2 linked regions of the Homo sapiens genome follow. The protein of the gene in region 1 interacts with the protein of each later gene in a biochemical or structural test. Each region holds a gene or a part of one and is shown in the gene's direction. Other genes may lie near its edges.

Evidence for each region.
Region 2: the proteins of SH2B3 (region 1) and KIT form a complex in vitro, tested with the Homo sapiens proteins (2 studies listed by BioGRID and IntAct, with this or other methods).

The regions. Positions count from the first base shown.
Region 1 is NC_000012.12:111,400,626-111,409,649, forward strand, and holds the start of SH2B3 (SH2B adapter protein 3), read left to right. Parts: upstream 1-5,297; 5' UTR 5,298-5,652; intron 5,653-9,024. UniProt on the Homo sapiens protein: Links T-cell receptor activation signal to phospholipase C-gamma-1, GRB2 and phosphatidylinositol 3-kinase.
Region 2 is NC_000004.12:54,730,209-54,738,263, forward strand, and holds part of KIT (mast/stem cell growth factor receptor Kit isoform 1 precursor), read left to right. Parts: intron 1-1,119; coding exon 1,120-1,211; intron 1,212-1,662; coding exon 1,663-1,790; intron 1,791-2,861; coding exon 2,862-2,984; intron 2,985-6,289; coding exon 6,290-6,401; intron 6,402-6,512; coding exon 6,513-6,612; intron 6,613-6,966; coding exon 6,967-7,072; intron 7,073-8,055. UniProt on the Homo sapiens protein: Tyrosine-protein kinase that acts as a cell-surface receptor for the cytokine KITLG/SCF and plays an essential role in the regulation of cell survival and proliferation, hematopoiesis, stem cell maintenance, gametogenesis, mast cell development, migration and function, and in melanogenesis.

The DNA.
Region 1 (9,024 bases):
TGGTGGGCAGTCAGACATCTCCTGGGAGTGAAGAAAGCAAGGGTAGACAGCTGGGCGCGGTGGCTCACGACTATAATCCCAGCACTTTGGGAGGCCAAGGCGGGAAGATTGCCTGAGGTCAGCTATTCAAGGCCAGCCTGGCCAACATGGTGAAACCCCATCTCTACTAAAACTACAAAAAATTAGCTGGGCATGGTGGCTTTCACTTGTAATTCCAGCTTCTCAGGAGGCTGAGGCAGAAGAATCACTTGAACCCAGGAGGTGGCAGAGGCTGCAGTGAGCCAGGATTGAGCCATTGCACTCCAGCCTGGGCAACAGAGTGAGACTCCGTCTCAAACAAAACAAAACAAAAACATCTGGTGGAAGAGCATTCTGGGCACAGGGAACAGCCAGTGCTAAGGCCTTGAAGTGGGAGCATGAAGGTGAGTTTGAGGAACAGCCAGGAGGAGCCCAGTGTGCTGCAGTGTCCTTTGATAATGCTCAGCACTCTGTGCATTCACTGAAGGCCACTAGGGACAAAGTGTCCTACACAATGTCATTTCCCTTCACCCAACTACTATCATGCCCATTTGACAAGCCAGAGATACTGAGGCTCAGAAAGTGGGAGCCTGTTGCTGGTGGCAAGAGGGGACCTTTGGAGGTTGCACAGCAGTGCCGTGATGGAAACTCGGGCATGGGAAACACCAGCAGTAGCCATTGCCCAGCTGGGGGCCAGGCCAGGCCAGGTCCCCGGGCCTCCTCCTCGCCTGTGGCCCAGGCCTGCAGAAGCACATTTTACAAATGCAGACAGCAAGGCCTCCACTCTGGCTGGGTGACCCTGGGCAAGATCTTTGCTCTCAAACCTCAGTGTCTGCATCTGTAAAAGGGGTGTGAAGCTCTGTTGTTTACAGGACTGGTCTTTGTGGCCACTCCTCTTCACAACCCTCGAGGGACACGGGACTCTCACACCCAATCATAGATTATAATCACATTCTTTTTTTTTTTGAGACGAAGTCTCACTCTTGTCACCAGGCTGGAGTGCAATGGTGCAATCTCGGCTCACTGCAACCTCCGCCTCCCAGGTTCAAGCAATTATCCCTGCGTCAGCCTCCCAAGTAGCTGGGATTACAGGCACCCACCAGCACGCCCAGTTAATTTTTGTATTTTTAGTAGAGACAGGGTTTCACCATGTTGACAAGGCTGGTCTCAAACTCCCGACCTCAGGTGATCCATCTGCTGCAGCCTCCCAAAGTGCTGGGATTACCGGCATGAGCCACCGAGCCTGCACTATATTCAACATTCTTTATCAGTCGTTGCTATGTGGAGGTACCTCCCCCACTCCTAAGCCCTCAATGTGAGTTTTCTCATCAAATTCCCCCTCAACCCAATGGGGTCAGTCCTGTCACTGTCCCCATTTTCCAGATGAGGAAACTGAGGCCCAGAGAATCTATGTGACTGCACAGCTAGGAGATACAGAACAGAGAACTCTTTTTTTTTTTTTTGGAGACGGAGTCTCGCTCTGTTGTTGCCAGGCTGGAGCACAGTCGCGTGATCTCAGCTCACTGCAACCTCCCCTTCCTGGGTTTAAGCGATTCTCCTGCCTCAGCCTCCCGAGTAGCTGGGACTACTGGCACCCGCCACCACACCCGGCTAATTTTTGTATTTTTAGTAGAGATGGGGTTTCACCATATTGGCCTGGCTGGTCTTGAACTCCTGACTTTGTGATCCACCGCCTCAGTCTCCCAAAGTGCTGGGATTACAGGCCTAAGCCACCGCGCCTGGCCCACTTTTTGAATTTTTATGAGTATATAGTAGGTGTATATATTTATGGAGTATGTGAGGTATTTTGATACAGGCATGCAATGTGTAATTATCACATCAGGGTAAATGAGGTATCCATCACCTCAAGCACTTATCATGTATTTGTGTTTGTACTAGTTAACTTTTGTTGTTATTTAAATTATTATTAATACGAATTGCTAATATGAATATTAATAGCATTGATCATTGTTAATTTATTGCTGTTGACTCGTGTTGTAATCGTTATCTTTTTAATTTTTTTTTTTTTTTTTTGAGACGGATTTTCACTCTTGTTGCCCAGGCTGGAGTGCAATGGTACGATCTCGGCTCACCGCAACCTCCACCTCCCGGGTTCAAACAATTCTCCTGCCTCAGCCTCCTGAGTAGCTGGGATTACAGGCATGCGGCACCACACCTGGCTAATTTTGTATTTTTAGTAGAGACGGGGTTTCTCCATGTTGGTCAGGCTGGTCTCGAACTCCCGACCTTGGGTGATCCGCCTGCCTCGGCCTCCCAAAGTGCTGGGATTACAGGCATGAGCCACCGCGCGTGGCCTGTAATTGTTATTAATCCTGTGAGTCTCCGGCTTTCTGGAACTTGGCCAGCAGGAGGTGTTGGTGTTTTTCACAGCAAGAAGGAAGGGCGGTTGGACCTGCTCCCCTAAGACGGCCTGGCTTGTTTCCGGGAGCTACGGATCAGTCATGGGAATTTGAATAACCCTTTCTCTCCTTAGGTCCCAGTGACCTGCCGAGTGGGAAGAGCCGTGGCTGGCCGGCCTCCCAGTGGCGACGACGACCTCGCTGTGTTCGTGGCAGCGGCACTCTCAAATCTGGGCACGGTGATGGGAAGGTTATTTGTTGGAATCCCTTTGCCTTTCCAAGGGAAAATAAACACAAAAAGTGAGAAGTCTTGGGGTCTCAGCGAGCGCCAAAACAAAAAACTGGACTCTGGCGGGGATGTGGGCAAGAAGCGACTAAGCGAGGAAGGAAACCAGTTTGGGCCTCCGAGAAATCTGGCAGGCGAGAAGGTTTGAACCGTGATTAAAAAGGGGAAGAACCACAAGTCCCAATTTAAGTCAGCAGAGCTGCTGTCTGGGCAGTGAGAGGGAAAGTGCTTGTGGCTGGCAGATTTCAGCAGCCATTTGGCATTGGCTGGGTACCGGGCTGCTCTGTGGGTGCTGCCTGGCAGCTGCATGGCTACAGACAAGTAACTGTTCTCTCTTGGCCGCAGTGTCCCCAGGTATAAGAAAGTGATCAAATAATATGGGATGATCCATTCAGACTTTTTTTTTTTTTTTTTTTAGAGACAGAGCCTACCTCTGTCTCCCAGGCTCGAGTGCAGTGATGCAATCTTGGCTCACTGCAGTGTCCACCTCCCAGGTTCAAGCGATTCTTCTGCCTCTGCCTCCCCAGTAGCTGGGACTACAGGTGCGTGCAACCATGCCTGGCTAATTTTTGTATTTTTAGTAGAGACAGGGTTTCACCCTGTTGACCAGGCTGGTCTCAAACTCCTGACCTCAGGTGATCCGCTGGCCTCAGCCTCCCAAAGTGCTGAGATTGCAGGTGTGAGCCACTACACCCGGCCTCGTTTAGACTTCATTGACATTCCCCCACCCCACCCCTCTTCCCACATCCTCAGATGCCGTGTGAACAGCTTGAATCCCACACTCCACAGGTCCTTCTCCTCACAACCCTCCATGGCACCCTACTGCCTTCAAAATAATTCCCAAAGTCCCCACCAAGACCTTCAAGACACCATGTGATGGGCCCACCTTTGAAACATCATCTCTTACCAGTATAGGTGTCACCACTGCCTTTATGACTTTATTCCAAAGCACCACATGTATTCCCACCTCAGCACCTTTGCACATGCTGTTCCTTTGGCCTGGAATGCTCTTCCCTCAGACGTTATAGCACCTGGATCCTTCTTGTCATGGAGGGTTCTAAGCTCACATGTTAGTTCCGCAGAGGTGTCCTTCCTGAGCCCTGGATCTAAGACATCCCCTTCCAGCTCTCCATCCCGTAACTGTTTTGTCATTGTCATAGCTGATCCCACTTGCTTATTCGTGCCTTATGTCCCCCCACTAGAATATCAGCTCCACGCAGGCAGGGATATCTGTGTTGTTCACTGCTGTGTTCCCAGCGCCTAGAACAGTGCCTGGAAATGTGCGGAAAGCAGATTTTTGTGGCCTTTTTCTTCAAGGTCATTGGACACCAGGAATCCTGTAGCAGACCGCTCCCTTCCCCCATCTACTCGGAGTCTGGAAATCCCCACCTTCTGGGGAACCCCTTCCTGTAGTTCTAAGGTCAGGACTGGGGCCGATTTGTTTAACACAGAGAGCTTCCTGGAGCCAAGCCTCGAGCTAACTGCTTTAATGCATTAACTCACTTAATTCTCACTGCCAGGAGAGTGGGTACACATTATTTCCATTTCATAGGCAAGGAAGTGGAGAGGTACGGAGAAGTCAAGTCATTTGCCCGGGTAGGAAGAGGGGGAGGCAGTGGAATGGAGACACTTGCTGCCTGGGAAGACTCGAGGTGGCCCCTCCAAGCTGGGGGCGTGGGCGACTTGTTTCCTGTTGGGGGAGGGGGAGAAGAGTACATTCCTCCCTCCCCGCCCTCCCACATGTTGGGGGAGAGGCTGGCTGAGAGCATGTCCCACTCCGGACTAGGGGGAACCCCACTGTCCGTCTCAGCTCCCCATGAGGCCGTGGAGAAAATGTAAGTAGCCCGGGGGCGGGCAGGGGGGTGGGCGCAGAGGCCACGGAAGCCAGCGGTCGGAGAGGGCTTCCTGGAGAAAGATGCACCCCTCCTAGAATTGGGGGACAGGACGGGCGGCCGGAGCGAGGCTGGGCTATACGGGCACCGGCTGTAGCAAAGGCAAAGCTGAGGGCTGGGGCCAGAACCCAAATCGGGGGCCTGGGGCCGTGGCGGGTCGGGTCAGCATGATCGCAGATAGTCAGGGTCGGGCAGGGCTGGGCTCCCTCCCTGGGGCGATGATGAAAGCCGTGGTCGCTATTGCACCGCCCAGCCCTGCGGGCACTGATAAGGCCCTGCAGGAGGGAGTCAGCAAGGGCGCGCCCCCTGGAGGCCAGGCCCCTCGACCCTGCCCGCCCTAGGCCCCGCCCCTTCATCTGGCCCCGCCTCCAGGCGCTGAGGCACCTGGTGACCTGCCGGCGTTGAGTGGGTGGGGCTAAAGTCGCCCCGCCCCTCCGATCCTCACTTCTATCTTCAGACTGTGGGACGCGAAATCGGGTGGGCACGTGGTGGGCGTGGCTTCGCAAGGCCTCGCCTTTTTCCGGACCCGCGCCAGGAGAGCCCTCCGACCCTGGCAGCCGCGGACTAGCGGGATTGGTAGGCGGGGCCAGTCCGGGCTCCGCCCTCATGGCCCGCCCCTCCAGCCGAATCTCCGACTCGCGCGCGGCCTGAGGCGTGGCTCCTGGTGGCCCCGCCCCTGCCCCGCCCCTGTCGCGGCCGGCCTCCCCCGCCGGGCTCCGCTCGCACGGCCGGTTCCTCTTTACATAACGGCGCGGGGCGGCATGGGCCCGGGCCACCGCCTCCGCCCGGCTGCCCGCCCGGACTGTCGCGGCCCGCGGTGGCGACGGCGGCCGCTGCAAAGTTTCCCCGGCGGCGGCGGCCCGGGGGCGCATCCTCCCGCAACTGTCAAGCGCTGGCGGCGGAAATGATGAGGCGCTGGCCATTTTCCGAGCCCGGGTTTCCTGCCTGAGCCCCGCTCGAGCGAGCCGCGAGCGAGGAGCCGGCGGGCGGGAGAGGACGCGCCCAGGGCGGGGGCCCGCCCGCCCCCTCGGGATTTCGAGGGCCCGGGGGCGCGCGACGCCATGGGCCGGCCGGGCCCAGAGCTCCTGTCTCTCAGGTGAGCCCGCGTTTGCCCGCGCTCCCCTCCTCCGGGGCCGGGAGGGCTTTTGTGGGGAAAGAGGAGGCCCCGTGTCCAGTTCTGCCCGGGCTCTGCGCGTCACCCCCAGCCCAAAATACTGCCCTGCAGCCAACTCGGATGGAGGCGTTCCGGGGTGACGGCTCCCAGCGCCTACGACCCCCCACTCAGCCACTACCCCCACCCACACACGTGTTAGGGAGAGCGTTGGGGTAACTGAGGCCGTGGGATGGGGGAGAGGGCATCGCTGACGCCCCCAGCCCACCCTACGGTAGCCTCGCCGGTTGGGGGCGGCCCTCCCCTCAACTTGTGCCTGGGGAGGAGCGGTCAGGGGTCACCCATTGCTACCCTGAAAGTGAAAGTAGTCAAACTGAGGCTGTGAGCACAGATGAGCCCTTGGGTGTGGGGGCAGCGGGGGAGGATGCGCCGGCCCCTCCCCACTCCCCATTCCGGGCCATGTGGCTAAGAGGGTAGCGCCCTGATTCAGGAAGCCCCTCTCCCCAGTTCCTGCACTGCCGAGGTCGACCGGGCCAGGCCCCCGCATGCTGCTGAATTGGGCGGTTCACCAGGGCTAGGCGTCCCAGAGACAGGTTTCTGGTATTGATCCTCTCACACCTCTTGCCTGGGGTTCCCTGGGAATCCCCCGACCAAAAAACGTCTGGAGTGGGTGTTGGTCTTCTAGATCCGCACGGTAGGGATGGTATTTCAGAGGTCTCTGATGCCTGGTGCAGAAATCCCCTTCCCTCCCTTCCCTCCCTCCGGCCAGGGGAGCTTTGTTTTGAGGGAGGGGGACTGCATTTGAGGAACTGGAGAGGAGGGTCTGCCTGCCTGTCCCGCTTCTTTTTTTCTTTAGTTTCCTCATTCTCCTGTTTCTCTTCCCCATTCCCAGCCACAATGATGTAGGTGAGGAGGTCACTGCCTGCAGCTGGGGGCCTCCAGGGAGGGGCACGGCCAGGCTGGGCTGAGTGGGAGGAAGTGAAATCTGGTGGGGGGTTCAGAGCAGAGGCCCCGGCAAGGCAATGTCGGCAAGGCCAGCTTTGGTGGCAGGAGGGACCGAGATCTGACCCGCAGCCCCTCGCCGGGGAGATGACAGTTCCCTAACACCGGCTAGCAGCCAGGCCTCAGGGCCCCTGCCAGGGCAGTGGGCCTGTGGGTCTCCAGGGATGCAGGCGCAGGTTGTGTCTGGGTTTCCCATCACTGACCTGGCTGCCTGAGTGGAAACAGCTCTGGAGGCTCCTCGGGACCTGCCCTCGTGGAGGGAGAGCCGTCAGAGGCCACCTGGGCAGGCTGGGCTCGGAGGATGAGAGCCAGGGCCTACTGGGGGAAGTTGGAAGGGTTTTTAGTGCACTTTTCCTGAGCCTTTTCCCACTACCCCCTCTGGGAGGGAAAATCCTTCTGAGCCAAAGGGTGAGCATTCCTAGAACTTTTGTGAGTCCCTGTGGGCCACAGAGCGGCCAGCTGGGAAGGGGCTGGCTCAGAGCATCAGCAGCTGGGGGCTCAGGGTCTGCAGGGGCTCAGCAGGAAGTGGAGGAGGATAGTGAGGAGGGTCCTGGAGACTGTGCTTTGCTACTCCTATTGCCTTCGTTCAGCTGAAGGCGTGGGCAAGTGACTCTGCCCTCAGTTTCCCTCTGTGTAAAATGGGGGAGTAACAGGTTTGCAGTGGAGATTTAATGAGCCAGTGTGTAATGAGCACCTGCTGCCTGGCAAAGAGAGGTTCAGTTGCAGGTGGTGGTGGTGGTAGTGGTGATTTTATCATTGCCTTCATTAGTGTTACTGTTATTGGCTATGAGGTGTTCCTTCAGTAGTCTCCCTTGAGCATCTCTTGCATACATAGCACTGGAATTTCCTGGGTCTTTGGGAGCAGAATTTTGAAGATCTGGGCACTTCCTTAGCTATAAGGCCTTGCTTAACTGCCCCACCTCAGTTTCCTCATCTGTGAAATGGGTGTGCTAATAGTACCTACTTCCTAGAGTCATGGGAACCATGAATGAGTGAATTCACAGTGTCCAGAGTGGCTTGGTCAGGAGGAAGAGAAGAAGTAGCCTTGGGGCCGGAATGATCTTTTTTGTTGTGGGTGTTAGCTCTGCTGGCTTTCTTTCCTCATCCCCCCACCCCCACCCCCATGCCTCTCAAACCTGGGCCTGATCCTCCTTCTCCGATAAATAGAACTTTTGAGTACAAATCAGATCCCACAGGACTGCTGGGCCCTTGGATTTCTGGCTCCCGCTGTGCCACCCCCAGACATTCTCCATATCCCAGGTGGAGCAGAGCTGGAGGCACTTGGAGGGACCTCCTCGCTGCCAGTCTCAGTGCCACCTGTCTGTGGTGAGGGGAGACCGGGTGCCCTCCCCAGCCAAGGTGGGGAGGGTCAGTGAAGGGGGTCTCAGGGACATAGTAGGGAGCTGTCCCACAGTCTGGGCCAATACAGCTCCTTTTGCTGGAAACACCTTTGGGACCCAGTTTACATGACCCCACACCCTTCTGAGGGCTGGTGTTCATGAGGGTCTCCCATTGCTGGGGATCCTTGGGTTGATCACTTAAGCTCTCTGAGGCAATTGAGACAACATCTGTGAAAGGCTTTAACAGCTGTGCACTTGCTGTGACATGGCACATAAGGCACTGAGCGCTGAGCCTGGCACTCAATTAACAATAGTAGATATTATTGCTATTAATAAAACAAGAGGCTTTTCCTGCTAAATTCCCACTTCTCCCTGGTAGCAGTATGGACTTTGGGGCCAAATCTGGGCTCTGCCAGCTTCCAGGTGTGAGGTCCTAGGCAGGTTACCTGGCTTCTCTGATCTGGACCTCGCCTGCCCGATGGAAGCCAAGAGTTCCAGCCTCCCCAGGGTTGGGTGTGTGAAGTACAGTGTCAGGACTGGAACTGTGTTGGCTGTACTTGCTCTGGCTGTGTGATCTTGGGCTGGTCCCTTAGCCTCTCTGAGCCACAGGTCTTTTTGTCTATGAAATAGGGGGGTTGCCAACTCCCTGTTAGGGTGGTTTTGAGAAAAGGAGGCATGCACAGTGCCCGGCATGCAATTGGCACTCAATAAGTGCAAGCCATTGCTGTTCATGCCCAATAGGGGCTGGCACTTAATTGCCAGGTTTCCTGGGAAAACGGTCCCCAAGGGCCCGCGGGCGTTCAGCATCTTTGACGAGGCAGGGCAGGAAGCCGCTGCCGTCTGGCAGACCGGAGACGCCTGCCTCGGCGAGTCCAGAGGTGCAGTGCTAGCTGCTCATTCCCTGCAAGGCCCCATTCCTCACTACCCACCCTTCCCAAGGAAACTGAGGCGGGCAGGCTGCCCAGGGGAAGTGACTCAGCCGGGGTCACTTGCTGAGTCAGGCCTTATTGGACCC
Region 2 (8,055 bases), on another chromosome or scaffold:
TCCTAGATGTACCCAGTCCAACAGAAGTCATGGTTATTTTGCCCAGTCCCCTATACTGTATATTGCTGCAGTTGTGTGGTAGATTTCTCCTATCCTTTTCATGCACTTTATATCCACTGCATCTTGCAATGGCAAGACATTGCCTCCTGAACTCTTAACACCAGGTCCTCAAGGAGACCTCAGTAAATATTATTGATGGGCAATTACCCCTTAAAGCCATTTTCTGTACCTCTGGCTAAAGTTTAAAACCCCAGGTGAAACTTTTTATTTTTTTTTAATCCTATAAACTTGAGTAGTTTAAAGTGGTAGTAGAAACTGTACAAAACCACTTTTTGTTAGTTTCTCCTGGGCATGTGCTCATTATATGAAGAAATGAGCCATTTTGCTTCTTTCCGAAACCTTGGCCCTATATATATCCTTTAACTTTCTGATATAATGGCCTAAATTGTTCAATCCTGTGTGATGTTCTTTGTGCTTTGGGATCCCATATGGGATTGGAACCACCAGCACACTCTGAAGGAGATTGTTGTCATGGTGTTTCTATGCTAATCAGAAGCAGGAAGTACTAGAAATCTTGAAGAGTCTCCAGCCAAATGTTGCAGATTGAAGAGGTCCAGATGGTTCAGAAAATCATCCAAATTATTGGTGTTTATCTGAACCAACTTGATTTTTTTTTAAACCTTCCTCCATCAGTCACTATATGTTAACGATCTCTGCCTCCTGCATAACACGTCTTGGAAGCTCTTCTTTGTCTTTCTTTCATCTTGTCTCCTGGGGCTCATTTAGAGAGTTTGAGGTAATACGGGATACCATATTTGGCTCTCTGTCTCCCATTAAATTCATTGTGTCAAGAGACGGGAAATTTCTAACCTGAGTCCTCTATATGATTATACACAAAAAGGACACCTAGTTTCTGGGCATGGACCCCAATATCGATTATTAAAAACTCATTTCTTACAGAACAGGATTTTCAAACTCTTTATTCAAACTTTACATGACTTTCCTCAAATTGGTCCAGTCTATTATGTAGCAAAGGGGATGAGGAGGTAGAGCATGACCCATGAGTGCCCTTCTACATGTCCCACTTGATTCAGTCATGACTTGTTTCATCTCTCCCAGCAGCGATAGTACTAATGAGTACATGGACATGAAACCTGGAGTTTCTTATGTTGTCCCAACCAAGGCCGACAAAAGGAGATCTGTGAGAATAGGTGAGTACCTACCTATCAAGCAACCAAGAGTAACTTTACAGAGAGTATGTATATCATGCTAATGTGGAATATAACATCATTCCCAGTAGCAATGATGCAGACCAGTTCTGCTTTATGGTAGCAGTGCCAATGGTCAATGGCAGTTAGGGTTGCAAGTGGGTGTTTGGGGTCAGAGCATATGTTTTTGTGCCTGAGTATCTTTCTATAGATATGGGATCTTTGCTTTAATTCGCCATCCCTCTCCTCTATGGATTTTGTAACCCAGCCTAGGATTGTTAAATATTAACTTTGTGATTCAGCATCTACCTTTCCTGGACACCAGGGAAGTGATCTGCCTGCAAGTTCACATTAGTTCATTCATTACCAGCCTTTGGTATGTCATTGCCACTGTCTTTTCCTTTCCTGACCTTTATGGTTGTAATTGCTAAGAAAAATCCTCTCTTCCTCACAGGCTCATACATAGAAAGAGATGTGACTCCCGCCATCATGGAGGATGACGAGTTGGCCCTAGACTTAGAAGACTTGCTGAGCTTTTCTTACCAGGTGGCAAAGGGCATGGCTTTCCTCGCCTCCAAGAATGTAAGTGGGAGTGATTCTCTAAAGAGTTTTGTGTTTTGTTTTTTTGATTTTTTTTTTTTTTTTTTTTTTTTTGAGAACAGAGCATTTTAGAGCCATAGTTAAAATGCAGAATGTCATTTTGAAGTGTGGTAACCAAAAGCAGAGGAAATTTAGTTTCTTCATGTTCCAACTGCTGTCTCTTTGGAATTCCTGTTCTAATTTATAAGCTGTAAAGTACAAGCCTGTCTAAATGAGTTTTTCTATGAATATTCTTTTATATGCAGTGAAATTCTTTTAAAACTTTTGGCTTTTAGGATATAGGATATGTTCCTAGAGAACAGAATCATTTTATCAGTAAAAGCAGAGGGCACCTCATAGTTACAAGGCTTGGGGTGAAGCATAGACTTGAGTTTTATTGAAGTTAGATCCAAATATTATATGTGTGGCTTATGAAGTGTCAGGAAATAAGGGGTCAGAGGGAGTAATAAACACTTGGGAGAAGGTTAGGAATGGAAAGAATGATGGAACCAAAACAAGGAGCATGGTCTGTGGAAGGGTGAAAGGAGTTCCTTAGGAAGTAAGATTAACCGAACAGAATGAGTTACCAGTCCTACCCTTAAATGTCATGGGTGACATTTCCCAACAATTACCAAACTAAGAAAGGATATAAGATGGCTGAAATAAAGACCTTCTTCCGTGTGTCCTTGGGAGATGTCAGATTGAATTTGCAAAGGCATATTAGGAACTCTGTGAAAGGACATTCAAAGAGATGCATGCAAAATGAATTTTCAGTTTAAACAATATGATATGACTATTTCTTATGTATTTCCCTATGAATGAAAGCAGTCCTGAGAAGAAAACAGCATTTATTAGAATTGCTTTTAAAAGAGATTATAATAATTAGACTCTTGATTATGTGAACATCATTCAAGGCGTACTTTTGATTTTTATTTTTGGTGTACTGAATACTTTAAAACAAAAGTATTGGATTTTTTATAATATAAGCAACACTATAGTATTAAAAAGTTAGTTTTCACTCTTTACAAGTTAAAATGAATTTAAATGGTTTTCTTTTCTCCTCCAACCTAATAGTGTATTCACAGAGACTTGGCAGCCAGAAATATCCTCCTTACTCATGGTCGGATCACAAAGATTTGTGATTTTGGTCTAGCCAGAGACATCAAGAATGATTCTAATTATGTGGTTAAAGGAAACGTGAGTACCCATTCTCTGCTTGACAGTCCTGCAAAGGATTTTTAGTTTCAACTTTCGATAAAAATTGTTTCCTGTGATTTTCATAATGTAAATCCTGTCTAGGGATATCACACATTTTAGCAGTCAAATTAAGTATACTTCAGCAAAATTTGCATGGTATGCTGAACATTACTACAACTAACATTCAATAATAGAAGTCCTAATTCTAATTGTGTAATTTTGGGGCATGTGAAGGAAACAGAAATAGCCTTAATTTTCATTATAGCCTGAGAATAGCAATGAACTTGATTTTGCTCAAGTGTAACAAATGTAGGTCATTGAAGGTCACAGCAGGAGAAATTTTGGGGGGATTGGCATGCCGTGTGAAAAATATTAAAATCTAAGATCATATTCAGAGTTAGCCATATAGAATGTTGGATCCTAGAATACACGGAGAGCTATTAAATAGGTTCATAAGTAATAATGGGTTTGTAGAACATAGCAAATGTTTTTCAAAGTGCTGTATTTCCTTGCCAATTTTTATTGAATCCTCAGAACAAACCCTTGTCCTATAATTGCAGCACCTTCCTATTTTAAAAGTTGGAGAAACTAAGGCATGGCATATTTTAGTGCTTTTTATCTGAGGTGACACAGGACAATAGAGGCTGAAACTAGAGCCTGTGATTTCCAGAGTGGCATCCCATCGCCATGGAAAACCATATTGCCCTTTATAATATTCTCTGCCTGTCTTCCTGGGCCCATTTCTGCAGTCCAGATTTATTCCTGGAGGTGGATTTTTGTGCCCCTTATGATAATGTAATGTTTTCCCCCCATCACTGTGGCGTCTCTATTGGTAGCCTGTACTCGATTTGGTTTTGTAAGAGTGTTTCTGTGTTTATCTCCTGGCCAAAGCATGAATTTCTGAAAAGGCTGCCCTGAAGCTAGATATTATCATCAGGAGTGATAATAAAAACAACTTCTCTTCATCCTGGTGCAATTTTGGAAGGAAGAATGATAAGTCGTTAATTATCCAGTCCTCTGAATATTGACCAAAGGGAGGAGGAAGAAGGTGGCCGCCTCCAGGCCCAGTCTTGATGAATTCTGCAATCTGTCTCCATTATTTCATGCCTGTGTAATTTTGTCAAGAGTTGTCCAATACCTCTGAATCTTTGTTTTTCTCCCCTTGGGAATAATAGTGATTCCTGACTCAGAAAGTTATGAGTTAATATATGTAAAGTGCTTATGACAGTGCCAGACATATTGTTACTATTCTTTATAGATGTCTTATTTACGATCTAAATAATCGTGACGGTGGTTACATACTGTCTTGTTATTGGTTAGTGACCTTAGTTTGAAATGACAAAGAGGGGTTGGCTCTATCAGGCTTCCAGATTGTAGACTCCAGTTCAAGTCAGTTGAACTAACCAATCACAGATCTCGCTTTCACCAGGCTAGTGGGTAAGGAGAATTTCTGGAACAAGATAAGAAGAAGGAAACTCATATATGTTACCGCCCCACATTTTTGTCATCATCATTTGAGATCTCCTTGTTGTGTCAGGTTCTCTGAAGTTCTTTCCTTTCACATGAGTTCTTCATTGTTTTTCATGTCATGGCCCCTTTTAGAGCCTGGTAAAGCCTATGGGACCCTTATCAGAACACTGTTTTCAACGCCTATGATGAAATACATAGGAATACCAAGGAAAACAGTTAAATCGAAATAGCTATGAAGATACTAAGTAAATTTGTGATATGTCAGTACATGTGTTTACTATAGAGTGTAACAGGCTCTGTTAGGTTGGTGTAAAAGTAATTGTGGGTTTTGCTATTTTTTCTAAAAACCACTGTAATTTTAGAGTGGTGATTAATGTAAATATGATTTTGAGATACCTATAAAGACTTAATAGGATATGAAGATATTTATGATTACTGTTCATGACAAAGTCACAGGTACAGCTGATACTACTGCGTTTTATCACCTTTGTTAGTAATTTAAAGAAATGCTAAATTTCATCTAGAAATTAGCGAAAATAAGGATGTCATTTTTCCTTTCCAAGTTCACAGGCCCCTGAATTTGACACCCATAGATCTCAGGTTAGGAGCCCTTATAGGAACTTTAGCACAACATCTAGGAAGGGAAGGGATATTGGAAGTTTTTTGTTTTGTTTTTGTAAGCTGACTAAAATAACTTTAACACCAAAAAAAAAAAAGAAAAAAAAAAAAAGCTTTCCCAGTTTTCAATCCTAAATGGATTAAGAGAAGGATTGATTTAGCTTTTTATGGCAGATTAAGATTGGGAATCCAGAATGCATCTAAAAGGACTAGTTACAGAAAGTTTAGCTCAACTTTAATGGAGAGAGTTCTCCAAAGAGTCAGGATCACAAGCCACTACTGTTTATCAAGTACTTGCCTTTCTTCTAGGCAATTTTTCAGATAGCACTGAGTCAGGCGGTGCTAAGCATTTTTACCCATTTTATCTTATTTAACCCACAAGACAATTCATAAAATTAAAAGTATTCATTTTGTTTTACAGAAGAAGATACTGAGGCTTAATTACAAATATTTTAGTGACTTTCCCAGTGTATTAGAGAAAGTTTTGGGTTTTGACAGAAAACCCAAAATAAAAGAAGTCTAGGAGTAGACTTTATACCAGGATTGGTATAAAGGTTCCATGGAGTACCCGGGCAAGTCTTTCCTTTCCATGCTTAGCCATTCCTGAGTGTAACCCCCATGTCCATGGTCCAAGATGACCACCAGGTGGATAGCCAGCCATCATATCCAGAAGGCAGGGGGCCCTTGCACTAGAGAAGAGAGGGCAGAGGGCACGTGCCAGCTATATTGTAAGGAGGTTTTCCTGAAGCTGCTATACAGCACTTACAACTTAGTGGCCAAAACCGAGTCACCTAACTACAGCTAGCTAGCTGCAAAGGAGGCTGGGAAATGTAGTCCTAATTGTGAGAGGCCGTGTTTCTGTTTTTAAGGAAGGAGAGGGACATATTCAGTGGAAACTAACAAATCTCTGCATTACCTAAGGCCCATGGTGGAGCCAGGGCTAAAATGTCTGGCTGTCTCTGACGTTTGTGCTCTTAATCTCCATGCCGTACTGACATAGTGCTCACATCTTAAAATGGGGATAATGCACTTGTGAGCCATGTATTTCAGAGGTGATTGGGATCATCTGAGTTCATATAGGTAAAAGGTTTTTGTGAGATGGTACTCAAGTTATCACTCCACATTTCAGCAACAGCAGCATCTATAAGAATATCTTCTGTTCAATTTTGTTGAGCTTCTGAATTAACATTATTGACTCTGTTGTGCTTCTATTACAGGCTCGACTACCTGTGAAGTGGATGGCACCTGAAAGCATTTTCAACTGTGTATACACGTTTGAAAGTGACGTCTGGTCCTATGGGATTTTTCTTTGGGAGCTGTTCTCTTTAGGTAAAATGATCCTTGCCAAAGACAACTTCATTAGACTCAGAGCATCTTCTTGAAGTTTCATTGGTGTCCTGCTTCCTTGTGATTAACACTGCTTTGCAAACTGTGTCTCAGGAAGCAGCCCCTATCCTGGAATGCCGGTCGATTCTAAGTTCTACAAGATGATCAAGGAAGGCTTCCGGATGCTCAGCCCTGAACACGCACCTGCTGAAATGTAAGAGCCAAAAAATTTTTCCTTTAGGTCACGTTTTCCCTTTTATTTTTCTTTTTAGAGACAGAAACCCAGATGTTGAGGGTTTTCATAACACAGTTTGAAATGTCACTTGGATTCTTTATGACACACTGGTCAAATGTCATTTCTGTAGTTTATTTTCATAATCTCTTGTCACCAAAAATACAGAAAGTTTCAGTAATATTTCATACATGCAGTGTTTTATGTTATCTATATGTCAGTCCATATGTCCAGTTGCATAGCCCTGGAATTATTACTGAAGTTGCTGGATGCCCATACATTTGAAAACAAGCTGAGGGCATTGAGGAGGGATAGTAAATGGCCCTTGTCTTGCAGGTATGACATAATGAAGACTTGCTGGGATGCAGATCCCCTAAAAAGACCAACATTCAAGCAAATTGTTCAGCTAATTGAGAAGCAGATTTCAGAGAGCACCAATCATGTGAGTATACCCTGGCCAGGCATAGAATCCCCCTTCTCCCAGTTCCAGGTGTGTCCTCCTCCTCAGGCTTTCAGGGTGAGGACTAACCTCCCAACCCCTTCTCTCCTAATCTTAGGTTGCAAATTGGGCTTCAGGTAGGGGAAGTAAAGCAATGGAAACTAGTTCTTTCTGCCCAGCCCTCCTGTTCTGAGCCAAAGAAGGATGTGAGATTGAGGGGGAAGGGTGGAGAGTTTTGTACTCACTGGAAGTAGAAGTTTCCATAAGGATTTGCCATGTTTCCTCCCTCATCTCAAATGCTGGTCACGGGGTCAGTATTTTCTCCCTCTCACATGTCAGGGCCATGCATCCTTTGGAGGGTTGGGGTGATGTGAACTAGAATAAAAGCATAGAAAAGACAGCTTGTTACTGCAGTGAAATAAGCCTTCTGATCAAACAAGCATAGCCAGAAAATGGCAGATAGCTGTCATGCCCACAAGCCATATAGAATGAAGAGCTGTTTGAAGTTGGGAGATCCCTCCCAGTGATTTGGGAAGTGTGGGGGAATGAAAACTCAAATCCATTATTTCCTCTCTTTTTAAGCAAGAATTAGTGATACTTTGACTCAGATTTTTTTAAGCTGCTTTCTTTCCTGGGCTGTGTGCTTGGAGCTATCTTTTCTTTCCTAATAGCACACCACTGATAATTTTTGGGTTAAAGCTTGTTCTTCTGGGTGTCAAAACATGTTTCAAATTGAACAGCATTTTCCACCCAGTTGCTTTGATTCTTGACAAGAGACCCCTGGAAGGGCCGTGGGTTTCCCAGCAAATTACATTGGTTATTGGGTTGTAGTTGCTGGAGAGATTTACAAGCCTTTTAAATAGGTAAGATAGTGCTTGGTGCCTGGTGTGCCCTTTTAGAAGAGCTAAGCTTGTGCATGTTTTGTCCCCACTTCTTGTATAAAGTTATTTCCTTGGAAAAATGAAGGGGGAAAACAAAGCTTATAT